3 linked regions of the Homo sapiens genome follow. The protein of the gene in region 2 interacts with the protein of the main gene of each other region in a pairwise test. Each region holds a gene or a part of one and is shown on either strand. Other genes may lie near its edges.

The links.
Region 1: the proteins of MARCHF5 (region 2) and BNIP1 interact in binary tests that used the Homo sapiens proteins (3 or more experiments, as listed by UniProt).
Region 3: the proteins of MARCHF5 (region 2) and TIMMDC1 interact in binary tests that used the Homo sapiens proteins (3 or more experiments, as listed by UniProt).

Annotation. Positions count from the first base shown.
Region 1 is NC_000005.10:173,161,484-173,164,887, reverse strand, and holds the end of BNIP1 (vesicle transport protein SEC20), read right to left. Parts: intron 2,816-3,404; coding exon of another isoform or gene 2,743-2,815; intron 2,577-2,742; coding exon of another isoform or gene 2,564-2,576; exon of another isoform or gene 2,528-2,563; intron 1,164-2,527; coding exon 967-1,163; 3' UTR 501-966; downstream 1-500. UniProt on the Homo sapiens protein: As part of a SNARE complex may be involved in endoplasmic reticulum membranes fusion and be required for the maintenance of endoplasmic reticulum organization. Also plays a role in apoptosis.
Region 2 is NC_000010.11:92,350,120-92,354,464, reverse strand, and holds the end of MARCHF5 (E3 ubiquitin-protein ligase MARCHF5), read right to left. Parts: intron 3,375-4,345; coding exon 3,258-3,374; 3' UTR 501-3,257; downstream 1-500. UniProt on the Homo sapiens protein: Mitochondrial E3 ubiquitin-protein ligase that plays a crucial role in the control of mitochondrial morphology by acting as a positive regulator of mitochondrial fission and as an important regulator of immune response.
Region 3 is NC_000003.12:119,508,500-119,515,546, reverse strand, and holds part of TIMMDC1 (complex I assembly factor TIMMDC1, mitochondrial isoform 1 precursor), read right to left. Parts: intron 1,907-7,047; coding exon 1,828-1,906; intron 1-1,827.

The DNA.
Region 1 (3,404 bases), on a different chromosome or scaffold from region 2:
ATTTGTCATGTTCAGCAGCGTCTATAACACCCTGTGTGTGGCAGCTGTTTAATAGTTCCTTGTTGTTGGGTGGGGACAGAAAGAAAATAACAATGCTAATTCGTTGTTGAATGAATGAATAAATAAATAATCTAGGTTCATGTCCTAAAAATCTGGACATCAAGAAAAGAGGGCTGGGCATGGTGGCTCACACCTGTAATCCCAGCACTTTGGGAGGCCAAGATGGGTGGATCACCTGAGGTCAGGTGTTCGACAGCAGCCTGGCCAACATGGAGAAACCCCATCTCTACTAAAAAAATACAAAAATTAGCTGGGTATGGTGGTGTGTGCCTGTAATCCTAGCTACTTGGGAGGCTGAGGCAAGAGAATCTTTTGAACCCAGGAGGCAGAGGCTGCAGTGAGCCAAGATTGCGCCATTGCACTCCTGCCTGGATGATAGAGCAAGTCTCCATCTCAAAAAAAAAGAAAAAAGAAAAGAGGAACACACATTCCCAGAGGGCTATCTTACAAAATCAAATACATTTTATTCTATTAAATAAAATCAAGTTTATTCAAGGAATGACCAGGAGTTTTCATCACCTTTCTTCCTACCTCTTCTCTCTTCCCTCCACCAGATCTGGCATTTAAGGGCACGATGGGAGCGGGAGACAGGAGGGGCATCCGGTCCTGGAGGCTGGACTTTAAGTGCTCCACGCAGCAGCGGCCTCCCATAGTGCACAATGGTGGAAGGAGGCGGTTCGTATGTCCCCAGGGCGGCATCCCAATGCCAGACCTTCCTCCCATGGCTCTGTTCACCCTTTACAAGCCAGCTACTTGCAGAAAAGTGGGGCACTGTGTTCCATCCAACCTGCAGGCAACTGGTGCAAACGGAGGGGTGTGTGGCTCAGCTTAGCAGCCTAGAGCTCAGGAACCAGGACAGATCCTGAAACAGGAGCTGAAAGGGCCAGAACTGGCACCTTTGGGATCTCACAAAAATGGAAAGAGCCGCTTTTTCACAATATAGAGGACCGTAGCAAGAAACAGGGCTAGCGCAAGGAAGATGAGAAGCTTGTCCGTCAGCTCCCGGCGATTGTATTTTGTGATAAGCTTCCGGCCCAGCTGGATGGTGCCCGACATGGACTTAAATTCTTCATTTGCATCCAGGATCGTTCGTGAAGAAGTGACTGAAACAAAAGAGGAAGGAGGCCCAACTCAGAGACTGCAGCTCAAGATCCAAAGACCTCACTCTGCTGGCTGGGGTGCTGATAAAAACCAGCATTCTCAAGTGAGTTCCTCTGAGCTGGAATCAAAGCATGTGGAGACCAGCCAAGGAGCTGACAAGGAAAGGCTCCTCCCCAGGTCCCATCAGCTCCAGAGAGTGAGGGGGGGTTTGTCTGGGAGTCCTTGAACATGAGCGTCACCAGGGAGAAGGGCAGAAGAGGCTTGCTCACCCAGCCACCTCCTCAGCTCTCTGAAGCAGATGGACGCTGCTCAGGGAAACCACCAGCCACAAAATCAACCCAGGGATCGTGGGCAGGCACTGTGAGGTCTGTGTTGGGGCAGCAGCCAAATGCACCAGAACCTTCCACCTATGAGGTGCGGCCTCCAGGACATCTGCTGGCCAGACCGGCACTTTGCAGGATCTCAAAAGGGCAAGGGTGTCCCGGGCTCTGCCGTAAGCCCTCACACATACCAGTCCCTCAGGCCAGGGATACTGGCTGTAGCTTTAAGGAGGTGACACCTAAGAAGAGGCCCACGTCCCTTAAGGAATCACTGTCCCCAGAGTCAGATGTATTTCTGAATATGGGTATCTGGGCCTGACGCTGAGGGTAGAAGGTGTACCTGGCGAGGTTCTCCCACAAAACATAGCAAGGCATCATCAGAACAGCCATTGAATAGAACACATTAAGTGAAAAGGGAAAGTATAAAGGAACGCCTGTGAAATGTTTCCATTTAGGTAAGAAACAGGGAGATAAATGGTATTTCATTTGCTTAAGTTACAAAAGCTTGGAGGATCACAAGATATTTTTTAAGACACTGGTTACAGAGGTTGCCTCTGGGAAGTGGACCAGAGGGCTGGCAGGTAGGGGTCAGCTGGAGGTCAGAACAGAGAGTGATCTTTTTTGTGTCCCTTTTGTACTCTCCAGAGCTGTGCTGACCAATATGGCAGCCCCTAGACATGCGAGGCTGCTGTGCATAGAAAAACGTGGCTAATGCAAATGGAGATGTCAGGAGATGTAAGTGTCAAACCCACACAATGTTTCTTTTCTTTTTTTTTTTGAGATGCAGTCTCACTCTGTCACCCAGGCTGGAGTGCAGTGGCGTGATCTTGGCTCATCACAACCTCCACCTCCCAGGTTCAAATGATTCTCCTGCCTCAGCCTCCCCAGTAGCTGGGACTACAGGCATGCACCACCACGCCCAGCTAATTTTCTTTTTGTATTTTTAGTAGAGACAGGGTTTCAACATGTTGGTCAGGCTGGTCTCGAACTCCTGACCTCAAGTGATCTGCCCGCCTTGGCCTCCCAAAGTGCTGGGATTACCGGCATGAGCCACCGCGCCTGGCCAAAATCCACACGATGTTTCAAAGACTTAATCTAAGAAAAAGGAATGTAAAATATCTCAATAGTTTTTAATATTAGTTTTACATTGAAATTATAATATTTTACATAATGGGTTAAATAAACATCTTACTAAAATTAATTTCTTATGTTTCTTTTTACTTTTTAACATGTGCCTACTGGAAAATTTAAAGTTACATACGTGGCTGCTGTTGCGTTTCTATGGCAGTCCTGGGCTAGAGTTTTCTTATCCTTCTCTATGCTGTATGTGTTACCTTTTTAAAAATTAAAAGCTAATAAGTAAATAGGATAAATTATCAGAGGAAACACAGCAGCGTTTTGAAAATGACAGATAAAAGGAGAAAAACAAACACTCACAGAACAGGAATCCCTCTCCGCCTGCTTTCTCCACGCCTGCCTGCTGCGATTTCAAAACCCTGAGATCTTGCTAAGTAAAAATCTAATAGGCCTTTCTTTTTAAACTTTATTATTACGGAGAATTTTGAACCATCACAGAGCAGACAGCATAATATCATGAAATGCCATGTGTCCACCACCCATAACCAAGAACCACCAACCTCTGAAATCCTGCTCCCCCTCCCCCCAACTGCAACTACTCCTGCAATTGTGGAGCAAATTCCAGACACCATATTCCTAATAAGCTTTTTGTTTTAAAATTATGGTCCTAGTAGGCTTTTAAATCAAGCTGAATTTGTGAGGCATAAGGAAAGGGTTAAGAACTGTATTCTTCTCTTTTCTTCAATAGTTATCGCTTGTACAAAATGGGCCCCAAGAACACCGGGACCCTCTCAACACCCCAGAAGCCACCAGCATTTGTGTTTCCTTCCCACTGTTAGCGGGGGG
Region 2 (4,345 bases):
CATATGCATCCAGGACTGTTCAATTCTATGCCCTTTCTCCTCTTAGCATCTGTCTCTCAGATGGGGTAATGAAATGACTTAAAACCAATATAATCCCCAAATGGATGCAAGGAAAAGACCTTTAACTCATTCTAGAGGATTCTAATCTTCTACTTCAGAAATTTAAGTTCTTAATATCTCAGAAGCAGTTTGTGTTCCCAACTCACTCGAATACACTTTAAGACATCATGGCATGAGACCACCCACAGATCTTGTCTAGTTGCTTAATTATACTCAGTGCAAGAGGCTTTGAGGGTGGGTGAGTGGGGATGTAGTTTAGTCATTAGAACATACTTAGAATATAGGCTAGCCTGTTTACAAAATTAGGACAAATTCTTCCATACAGTTTTTTTTTTAAATTCAGATTACTTTTACTTACAAAAACTAGTATCTCGATAACTGTGATTAAAAAAAATTATGTATGTACAGAATGTTTTGAGATTTAACAAAGTACACCTAGAGAACATAAAAATTCTTTATTTAACCTAATCCAGCCAGTATTGAGATAGTTTGCTATATTAAAAACAAGACGTTTAAAAAAATTACAGCAAAGTTAGCAAGGCAGTGACTAATTAAGTCACTAAGTTTAATTTTATATTCTTCACAGTCATTTCATAATCATGTAATGGTAAACAATATTTTCAGCCACTTTGGAGATAAGTTAACTTTTGAAAAGAATTCTAGTAGTCGTCATTGAATTTTATAAAAGAGGTTTAAAACATTAAAGTTTCCAGAAATAACACAGTAAAGAAATATGAAAATAAACTGGAAAATAAAATATACCCACCCATCCGAAAAATCTACATCATCTCTTTCATTTGTCCCCAATGCCTTTCTTTTACCTCTCCATTTACTTTTCCTAGAGTGCAAACAGATTACTTAGCAATTAAGAAACAACTACTGCTTTGTAGGGGCGATTTTGAGCCTAAGTGCTGCTGTTCCTTTAATCTCTCAGTTAATCCTAGAAATAGTCTTCTGAGATAAACATTATTTGCATTTCAAAGATTAAGAAAACTGCAGTTGAGAGAAAGTCAAATCCTTTAGCCAAAATCATACATACAGTTATTGAAAGCTGAACTATGATTTGAACCCAGGTCTATCCAACTTTAAGTCTGCCTATGCTCTTTTGTTGCTTCATGGTCAGGCAGGTCACCTTCCTGGGAAGACTGGCATGTGGTATTTCTCGAGCTAATAATAATAAGGCTCTTTAGGTTTAAAAGTGTTCAATTCGGGGCTAGAGGCCACTCTGGTCCTCAGGCACTTGCAGTTCCCTCCCCGCAACCCTAAAAAAACCCTCCCTCCTGCCCCAAAAGGATTAGAGTTGTTCCCCGGCCTTCATGAGCCCTAATACCTATAAAACCAAGCAGCTACTCCCTGTCAAGGGCATTAATGTAGTAAATGGGGAACTGTGTGTTTGCATAACTTTAGTAAAGGCTGCCTAAAAACTGTTCTATACAACAAAATTTTGCAAGATATGTGTCCATTTAATGTATCTTTCACATTGAAAACAAAAGCCAATATATTTTATAATTACAGCCTATAATCTAAGTTTTTAAAATATATAACCATAGATGTTATATTTCCCCTTCAGAACTGTAGTAGTGTTCTTAATAAGGCTCACTGTTAGTCAAATCTTCATCTCCAAATAATACAAATTTGAATGTTCAACAGTCATTCAAATAAACATCATATAACTCAAAATTAAGACATTCATACTATAGAAACCAGTCTTTAATTACTAAAGTTAACATATATTATTGCAAACTAACATAGCTCAATCTATATTTGCTACACTCCTAAAGTGGCCGCTTATCAGTAAGGGGAAACATTTATTATTGACATGCATTACTGTGAACAAGAAAATAAATAGGGTTTTGAAAATATCTCTTAAAAATTTAATTTTAATTAACAAAAATAACCATTCAGGTTGCTGAACATTAAAATGGCCAATCTATTGAAAATGGCTTCAATAATTGCTTTTAAAAATGAATACAAAACTAAACAGTGATTAAGGTGCTAGCCTCATCAATAGGACAATTAAAATCTAAAAACATTAGTGTTGATTTTCTATAATAAACTTAAGCCAAAAACAATGACCTCAATATTTACTTAAGACTTCTTGTTTTCATACTTTTCTCCTCATTAATATAAAAACAAAGAGCTCAAGGCCTCACCTTGGTTTATTCACTGCTGGTTTTCTATGTGCTGAAACTAGACTGTCAACTCTGTAAGAGCTTGGACCAAGTCTGTCTTGTTCACCACTATGTCCTACAGCACTCTGCACAGTGCCTGGGAAATAGGAGGTGATCAACGAATATCTCAATAACTGAATCAATGCAAGAGGAGAGTAAAATAACTTTATTTTTATTTTTGCAAATCATCCTCTGCTCAAACTACTATAAACTGGCAGCTGTAATTTCTAGAAATATGGGTTGAAAAAACTCCCAGAGATGGAAGGACCTGATGAAACACTGAAACACACAAATACACACACACACACACACACACACACACACACACACACGACTGCATGAGTCAAAATTACTTCATGAAGTATGAGATGTCAACATTATGTAAATAAAATTTAATATTGAAAAAGTGATCTGGAAGCCCTGTGAATTTTTACCCTACACATTTTGGAGGACATCACATGGGTTAAAGAAAACACCACAAAATCTCATTTGTTCAGATAATCATTTGAATGTTTACATACATTTTTGGTTATTTATTTATAACTAATTTAATTTACATTTCCTCATATTAACATATCCTCTTATTTAGTATGTAATCAAATTATGTCAGTGAGAAAAATCCTCATAGTACCTTGAGTTGCTGATTCTGAGAAAACACTAAACATGAACATGTACAAAAGAGGCATTTGAATAAAACAGCATGTGCATTTTTTTAATATTTGCACAGTTTGATCTTTGCATTTCTGTCTGGAGAAAATATGAACAAAACCCAGGTTTACCATGCTAAGATAATGGTTCATATGACTGCCATAAAAGTAGTACATACAAACAATGAAAACAAATCACATCCTTAGGTTCCATGATTACCGAGATGATTTCCCCTGCCCTAAGTGCTTTATTATATTTCTTAAAAAATATAGGAGCAGCAGCTTATCACAAGTCTCCACAAGTGCATTAATGATGGAATCAAAACAACACAACAGATTCATAAGGATGAGAGAACTGCAGAACAACCAGAAGTCAGTTTTATGCTTCTTCTTGTTCTGGATAATTCAGAATTTTGCGGTGTGCCTGTCGTAAATATTGCTGCTGTTTGAAGTAAACTTTAAATGCTCCTTTTATGGCAACAAACGCAATTCCACCCTAAAATAAAAAGGAAAATTAGCTTTTTATAATGCAGATTTAGAGAAACAGAGTAATAAAAATAATTTTATTTAGATCACAAAAGACGTAGGCTTTGATGCTAAACTAATTCAGATGACTGCAAATGAAACAGTTTTCTTTTTCTACTAGGAGATGAGATAGGGAGAGAGACAGACTATACGCTGTTACTACAGGTAACAGGGGACACAGATGCCTTCTCCATTATCCTTTCTGACTAGTCTTTCTTCCATGTAGTTCTACATATACTCTGATATACAAAGAAGAATGCTAGGGCACTATGTGCAGACTGCCACTGTTGGGAGCAAGAAAGGCCAAAGGGATCGTGACCAACTCAGCATTCCACTGGAGGCTATATGACCAAACAGCAAACTGTTTATCATGAATGCAGGATGTGAGTAAACTCACACTGAGCCTGCCACCAAAGGGTTTGCTGGGGGCCATCACTCCCTGGTGCAGGGCTCCTTGAACTTATCTACTGGGAAATCTAGCGCCTACTGTTCAAATGATGCAGTCTCGCAAGCCTGCTGTGAACCAAACTGCCAAATGGACTGACAATTACCCGACAATCACCCCTGCTTCTCACTATCTCTTTTGCCTAATAAATACAGAGGGCTGTGTAAAGCTCAGGGCCCTTGTCCACTAGAGGCAAGGTGCCCCCTGACCCCTTCTTCCAAATATACTCTCTTGTCTTTGTCTTTTATTCCCACGTTTGCCCCCTTTGTTCAGTCCTCCAAGGTCCGTGCAGGTTACATGCCACCAGAGGGGAGAAGTGGGAGTAACAATAATAGCAAACAACATGAGTGCTTACTATGTGCTAGTACTTATACAATCCTCACAATAATCCTGATTATTACCATCACCATACTACAGGAACAAAAAGTCCAGACATTTGATTTAGATTTCACAGCAAGACAATTTCTGTGATGGGATTTGAACCAGGTGGTCTGATC
Region 3 (7,047 bases), on a different chromosome or scaffold from region 2:
ATCTTACATGGCAAAATTGATTTCAGAAATGTAATTAAGGTTACTAATTAGTTGAATCTGAGATAATGAAAAAGGAGATGGCTATCTGAGTGAACACTCAAAAGCAGAGTTTTCCCTGGCTGGTGGCAGAGTAGAAGTTAAAGATTTGAAGTATGAGAAGGGGTTAATGTGCTGTAGCTGGTTTAAACACAAAGGGGCCCTAGGAGAAGAAATGTGGGTGGCCTCCAGGAACAGAGAATAGTCTGGCTGACAGCCTGCAAGGAAAACAGGGACCTCAGACCTCAAGGCACAAGGAAGTAAATTCTTTTTTAGTTTTTCCTCTTTTTTTTTTTTTTTTTGAGATGGAGTCTTACTCTGTTGCCCAGGCTGGAGTGCAATGGTGCGATCTTGGCTCACTGCAACCTCTGCCTCTGCCTAGGTGAAGGGTATATGGGGTTCAAGCAATCCTCCTGCCTCAGCCTCCCGAGTATCTGTGATTACAGGCGCTTGCCACCACACCTGGCTAATTTTTGTATTTTTAGTAGAGACAGCATTTCACCATGTTGGCCAGGCTGGTCTCAAACTCCTGATCACAAGTGATCTACCTGCCTCGGCCTCCCAAACTGCTGGTTTTACAGGTGTGAGCCACTGTGCCTGGCCACAAGGAACTAAATTCTGTCAACAACCTGAATGAGCTTGGAAACAGATTCTTCCCCAGAGCCTCCAGGTAAGAGCCTAGCCCGGCCAAGACCTTGACTTTGGCCTTGTAAAATCTTGAGCAGGGAAACCCAGCCAGATTTATAATCTACAGAACTACAAGGGTGTTGTTTCACATGCAATACATGCTCAGTTTGTGGTAATTTGTTGCACAGCAGAAAACCAATATATCAAGTAATTAAAGTTAATATTACTTATAATGGGTGACAGAATATCTCCTGATGTGATACATGAGGATACAACTTCACCTATGTTGTATTCCTGACAAAAATACATTAATCTAATCATGATGGGATGATCAAACAAAATGGAGAAACATGTGGGCATTAGTATGATAACTGAGGAGTTTTTAATATAGACCCTAACTTAGATAGTTGTGTTGAAACAATGTTTACTGTGATAATTGTATTATGATTTCATGGAAGAGTATTCTTCATCCTGGGAGATACATGCTGATATATATGGGGGTGAAGTATCATGAGGTCTCAAACAGTTTAGCCAAGAAGCAAACGGAAAGAAAAAGAAATATATTCACATCCCACACATATACATAGATATGGAAAATATCACCAAGGCGTTAACAACTGGTGAATCTAGGTGAAGGGTATATGGGGTTTCAATGTACTAATTCATTCAACTTTTCTGTAGGTTTGAAATTGTTCAAAGTAAAAAATTGAGGAAGAACATTTTTTAAAAATGTATTAAGCAAAACAAACAAAATCCTAACAATTTTTACAGAATATGCTTGTTAACTGTTTTTTGTTCTTTTTTCCCTGCTCCCATAAATACCTGTGTTCGAACTATAGTTTCAGGTGTTAGCAATATTTAAACAGTTTTAGCTGGTAAAAAGGCATTTTGAATAAGGGCCCTATCTTAGATAGTTGTATTGAGTCAATGTTATTTATTGTAATAACTACTAAGTAAAAGAAACTATAAATAAAAACTGTAAATAAGATAAACTATTGGGGTAGAATTAGAATGGACAGTCAAAGCTACTGCCAATGCAAGACTAGAGATCTTTTATAGATTCTAAGGATTAAATTTGTTCTTTGAAAATAAATGAGACTTTTTAATAGGCAAGGTATTAATGAAAATTGTGCCAATTTAGAACCAAACCATGTTAATGCTTACCCCAGCAAGGCTCCAATTATGCCACCAGCCACCAGGCCACGCAGGCCTACGTTTATCCTAAAAAGACTTCCCGTGACAGCTATTTAAAAACAAGAAAGGCAATATTAAATCATCTTTAAAACTAGAATCCTATTTTAAAACTTTCCTTCTACAAAAAGGAAATCCCTAAGTGAGCTTTCTGAATCCAATGTTAATATACTACTACAGCCTATACTTCCTGAATCTAAAATGCCAACACAGGTAGCTTCCCATCCACTCTGCAGATTCAAAGGAAGACACATCCCTTCTACAAAAGTAAATCTTCAATATGTTCTATGGATCCATTCATTCTGCTTCATTTTTGCCCATCTCTCCTTAAAAATCTGAAAATGTTTTTCCCCTTCTCTTTCTTTCTTCTTTCTTCAAGGAAAATAAAAAAGCAAAAAACCTTCACTAGCCCCTCCAGTTTATGCCTTCCCCTAGACTCACTCTCTCTGTACTGCTACATGGCACCACTCAGGCAGGGTGACAAGCAAGCAGCATTTGGCCTACAATGCTACCTGGTGACCAGTGCACAGAAAGACTTCTTTCCTTTCTGCTGGGACTGTGCATCAATCATGCTCATTCATTTTCCTTTCACTATGCACAATGCAACTAATGCCATCTAAGGTGGTAACACTTTTTAAATAATAACATTTGAAGCCAGGTGCAATGGCTCACACCTGTAATCCCAACACTTTGGGAGGCCAAGGCAGGCGGATCACTTGAGGTCAGGAGTTCTAAGTCAGCCTGGACAACATGGCAAAACCCTGCCTCTACTAAAGATACAAAAATTAGCTGGGTATTGTGGTGCACGCCTGTAATCCCAGCTACTCAGGAGGCGGAGGCACAAGAATTGTTTGAACCCCAGAGGCGGAGGCTGCAGTGAGCAGATATCACACTCCTGCACTCTAGCCTCAGCGGAAGAATGAGACTGTCTCAAAAAACAAAATAAATAACAGTTGAGGTTTATATTTTTAAGTACTATATATTCATTTTTAAAATTTTCAAAATTAACAAGAATCAAAATCACCTTTAATCCCATTACCCAGAGTCAGTAATAAGTTAGTCTTTTTTTCTGATCCTCCAAACAAAATAAAACAAAAAACAAAAACAACAACTGGGGCCGGGCACGGTGGCTCACACCTGTAATCCCAGCACTTTAGGAGGCCGAGACGGGTGGATCACGAAAGTCAGGAATTCAAGACCAGCCTGGCCAAGATGCTGAAACCCCGTCTCTACTAAAAATACAAAAATTAGCCGGGCATGGCGGCACACACCTGTAATCCTAGCTACTCAGGAGGCTGAGGCAGGAGAATCACTTGAACCCAGGCGGCAGAGGTTGCAGTGAGCCGAGATCGCGTCACTGCACTCTTGCCTGGACAAAAGAGCAAGACTCTGTCTAAAAAAACAAAATAAAACAAAAACACAAAAACTGGGGCCATGGTGTACATACTAAATTTTTTATTTTCACAGAACATATTATTAAATTCTGTATCACTGAGTTTTCTCCCACCTAGTTCCATTGCATGGAGGTACCACAAATTTTTGTCTAACACTTAGATTTTCTATTTATAGATATTTTAAATAAAGGTATGATGATAATCCCTCCACAAATAATCTTTTTATACATTTGATTGTTTCCTTAGGACAAACTCACAGAAATGAAATTTCTGGGCCAAAAGGTATAAGTATAAACATTTTTAAGGCTTTTGACTTAAATTACTAAACTGCTATTCAAAAAGGATGCATAAACTTATTTTCCAAATAAAAGTATGCAAGTAATCTAGTCTTCTGCATTCTCTTAGTTTATTTTTTCCAATTTGATAGGCCAGAAGTGGTATGTAATTTTTAAGTTGCATTTCTCTGATTAGTAGAAAAAAGTTGTTTTTCCCTAGGTTTACAAGTTATTTGTGGTACGTCTGTGAATTACAAATTCATGTCCTTTGTCCAGTCTTCAACTGAGCTATCCTTTCTTTTTGATATATTAGGGCTTTTATCCATTACCTGCACATACTATTATTTTGGCATTGTTTACATTTAATGTCTTCCATAGTATTTATGACATAGATAGGTTTAAAAATTTTATGTGGCCAAAACTGTGTTTCCTGTTTCCTAGTTTCTTAGTTCTTATGCTTAAAAATACATACAGTTGATAAACATGAGTTTGAACTGTGCAGATTTACTTACGCACAAATTTTTTTTTCTTTTTTCTTTTTTTTTTTAAGATGGAGTCTCACTCTGCTGCCCAGGCTGCAGTGCAATGGCATGATCTTGGCTCACTGCAACCTCTGCCTCCCGGGTTCAAGCTATTCTCCCCCACCTCAGTCTCCCAAGTAGCTGGGACTACAGGTGCATGCCACCACAACTATTTTTTTTATTTTTTAGTAGAGACAGGGTTTCACCATGTTGGCCAGGCTGGTCTCGAACTCCTGATCTCAAGTGATCCACCCGCCTCAGCTTCCCAAAGTGCTGGGATTACAGGCATGAGCCACCATGCCAGGCCACATGAATTTTTTTCAATAAATATATTGAAAAATGTTTTGGAAATGTGCAATAATTTGAAAAAACTCGCAGATAAACTGTCTAGCCTAGAAATATCAAAAAAAATTAAGAAAAATGTATGTCTTTAAGTGCATAAAATATATGTAGACACCAATCTATTTATGTGTGAAGCAACTGTTTATGTTATTGGTAAGGCCTCTGGATAACAGCAGGCCATTAGTAGTTAAGTTTTGGGGGAGTCAAAAGTTATATGTGGATTTTTCAACTGCACAGGGCAGATGTCAGCATTGCTATTGTGTTCAAAGCTGTTTTCAGTGTTGTCCAAAGGTCAACTTGTATATGTACACATTTATATATCTTCCTACTCAGAAATCAGAGACACATTTACTTCTATATTTTCCCCAATCTTTTATGGATTTTTTTACATAAGCACCATAATAAATGTTAACTAATTTTGTTGTACTGAATATAGTTATAATTTCTTTCCAAATAGTTAATAACTGTTCCAGCCCAAGAATGGTCTATTCTTAAACCACGAATGTGAAGTATCACCTTTACTTATTTGTGGGTGCTTGGTTTTGTTCCTGACCTTGCAATTCCATTCCACAGATCTACCAATACCTCTTTATTGTCCTCTTTATTGTAACTTTATACAGATTTTAATTTTACAGTTGCAAGAACCCCTCATTATTTTTTGCTGAAATGTCTTTGCTATGCTCTTAATAATCAGCATTTTAGATATGATTTAGACATTGTATCAAGTTTTTTTAAAAAAGCCTGTAATTTTGATTTGAATTGCTTTCAATTTATAAATGAAGTAGAAAAATACTGGGTTAACTATCAACTGTTTCCCCATTTTTATTATTTATGATTTGTAATTTTCTTCAGAGAAGTTGTACATTTATTAAATTTATTCCTTATTATATTACATTCTTAGTACTATTATTAAGAAAATTTTTTACTTTTCAAGTAACTGCTGAAATATAAAAAGGCTATTTATATATTTACACTTTACTGATAGCAATAATTTTTCAAGTCATCTTTTAAAATATTACCTACAAATACAGAAAATTTTGCTTCCTCCTATCTAAAAGCACTGCCTTTTTCCCCTTCTGTGTTAATATATTTTTAACAGTTTTATTGAGGTATAATTTACATAACACAAAATTCACCTAAATGTACAATTCAATAATTTTTAGTAAAAAAATCTAGTGGCCCGGCACGGTGGTTCATGCCTGAAATCCCAGCACTTTGGGAGGCCGAGGCGGGCGGATCACGAGGTCAGGAGATTGAGACCATCCTGGCTAACATGGTGAAACCCTGTCTCTGCTAAAAATACAAAAATTAGCCGGGTATGGTGGCATATGCCTGTAGTCCCAGCTACTCAGGAGGCTGAGGCAGGAGAATCCCTTGAACCCGGAAGGTGGAGGTTGCAGCGAGCCGAGATCGCACCACTGCACTCCAGCCTGAGCGACAGAGCAAGATTCCGTCTCAAAAAAAAAAAAAAAAATTTAGTTGCATTGCTATATAATCATCACCAAAATCCAATTTTTAAATGATTCCATCATTACAAAAAGATCCCCCACGCCCATTTGTGGTTACTCCTGGTTCCCAATCTCACCTCAATCCACTAATGTACTTTCTAACTCTACAGATCTGCTTATTCTGGACATTTCATATGAATAGAATTATACAATATGAAGTCTTTTGTGTCTAGCTTTTTTCACTTAATGTTTTTGAGTTTTATTCATGTCGCAGCATGTATCAGTTTTTTACTGATGAAAATATTCAAGTGAATGGACATATCATATTTTATTTATCCATTCACTAGTTGATGAATTTATGGGTTCAGTTTGAGGCTGTCGAGAATAACACCACTATAAAAATTTATATATAAGTCTTTGCGTGGACATGTTTTCATTTATCTTGGGCAGATTCTAAGACATGGAATTGCTGAGTTGCACAGTAAATTATACTTAACTTTTTTTTTTGAGATGGAGTCTCACTCTGTAGCCCAGGCTGGAGTGCAGTGGCGCGATCTCAGCTCACTGCAAGCTCTGCCTCCCAGGTTCACGCCATTTTCCTGCCTCAGCCTCCCAAGTAGCCGGGATTACAGATGTGCACCACCATGCCCAGCTAATTTTCGTATTTTTAGTGGAGGCGAGGTTTCACCATGTTGGCCAGGCTGGTCTCAAACTCCCAACCTCAAGAGATCTGCCTGCCTCAGCCTCCCAAATCGCTGGGATTACAGGCATAAGCCACCACACCTGGCCTTCCAATGGTTTTCTTAATTCATTTGGATTTTCTACTTGCAAGATGTTGTGGTTACCCTCCAGAGACAATAAACTCCCCCACCCAAAATTTGAATCAGATATTGAAATGCCAAAGTACCAAGAGGTACTAAGAGGATACCAAAAGGTTTATTACACATATAATAAGGCTTTCCAGGGAGAGCAAGGCAAGATCCCAAGCATGTCCCAAAATGACTTGAGAACCTGAAGGCTGACTGACTGGCTTGTGGTTTTAGAAGGTGGGGCTAGAGCAAGAGCTCCCTCATGTAGGCCTGAGCTTGCATGGTTGAAACTTCCTGCTGGTGTCAACCAAGGTAGCACTTGGGCTTTCTTATCAGCTTGTCAAGATGTGGGGCAAAAAGGAAAGGGAGACTTCCAGTTTCTGGTATGGCATGTGAGAAGTTTA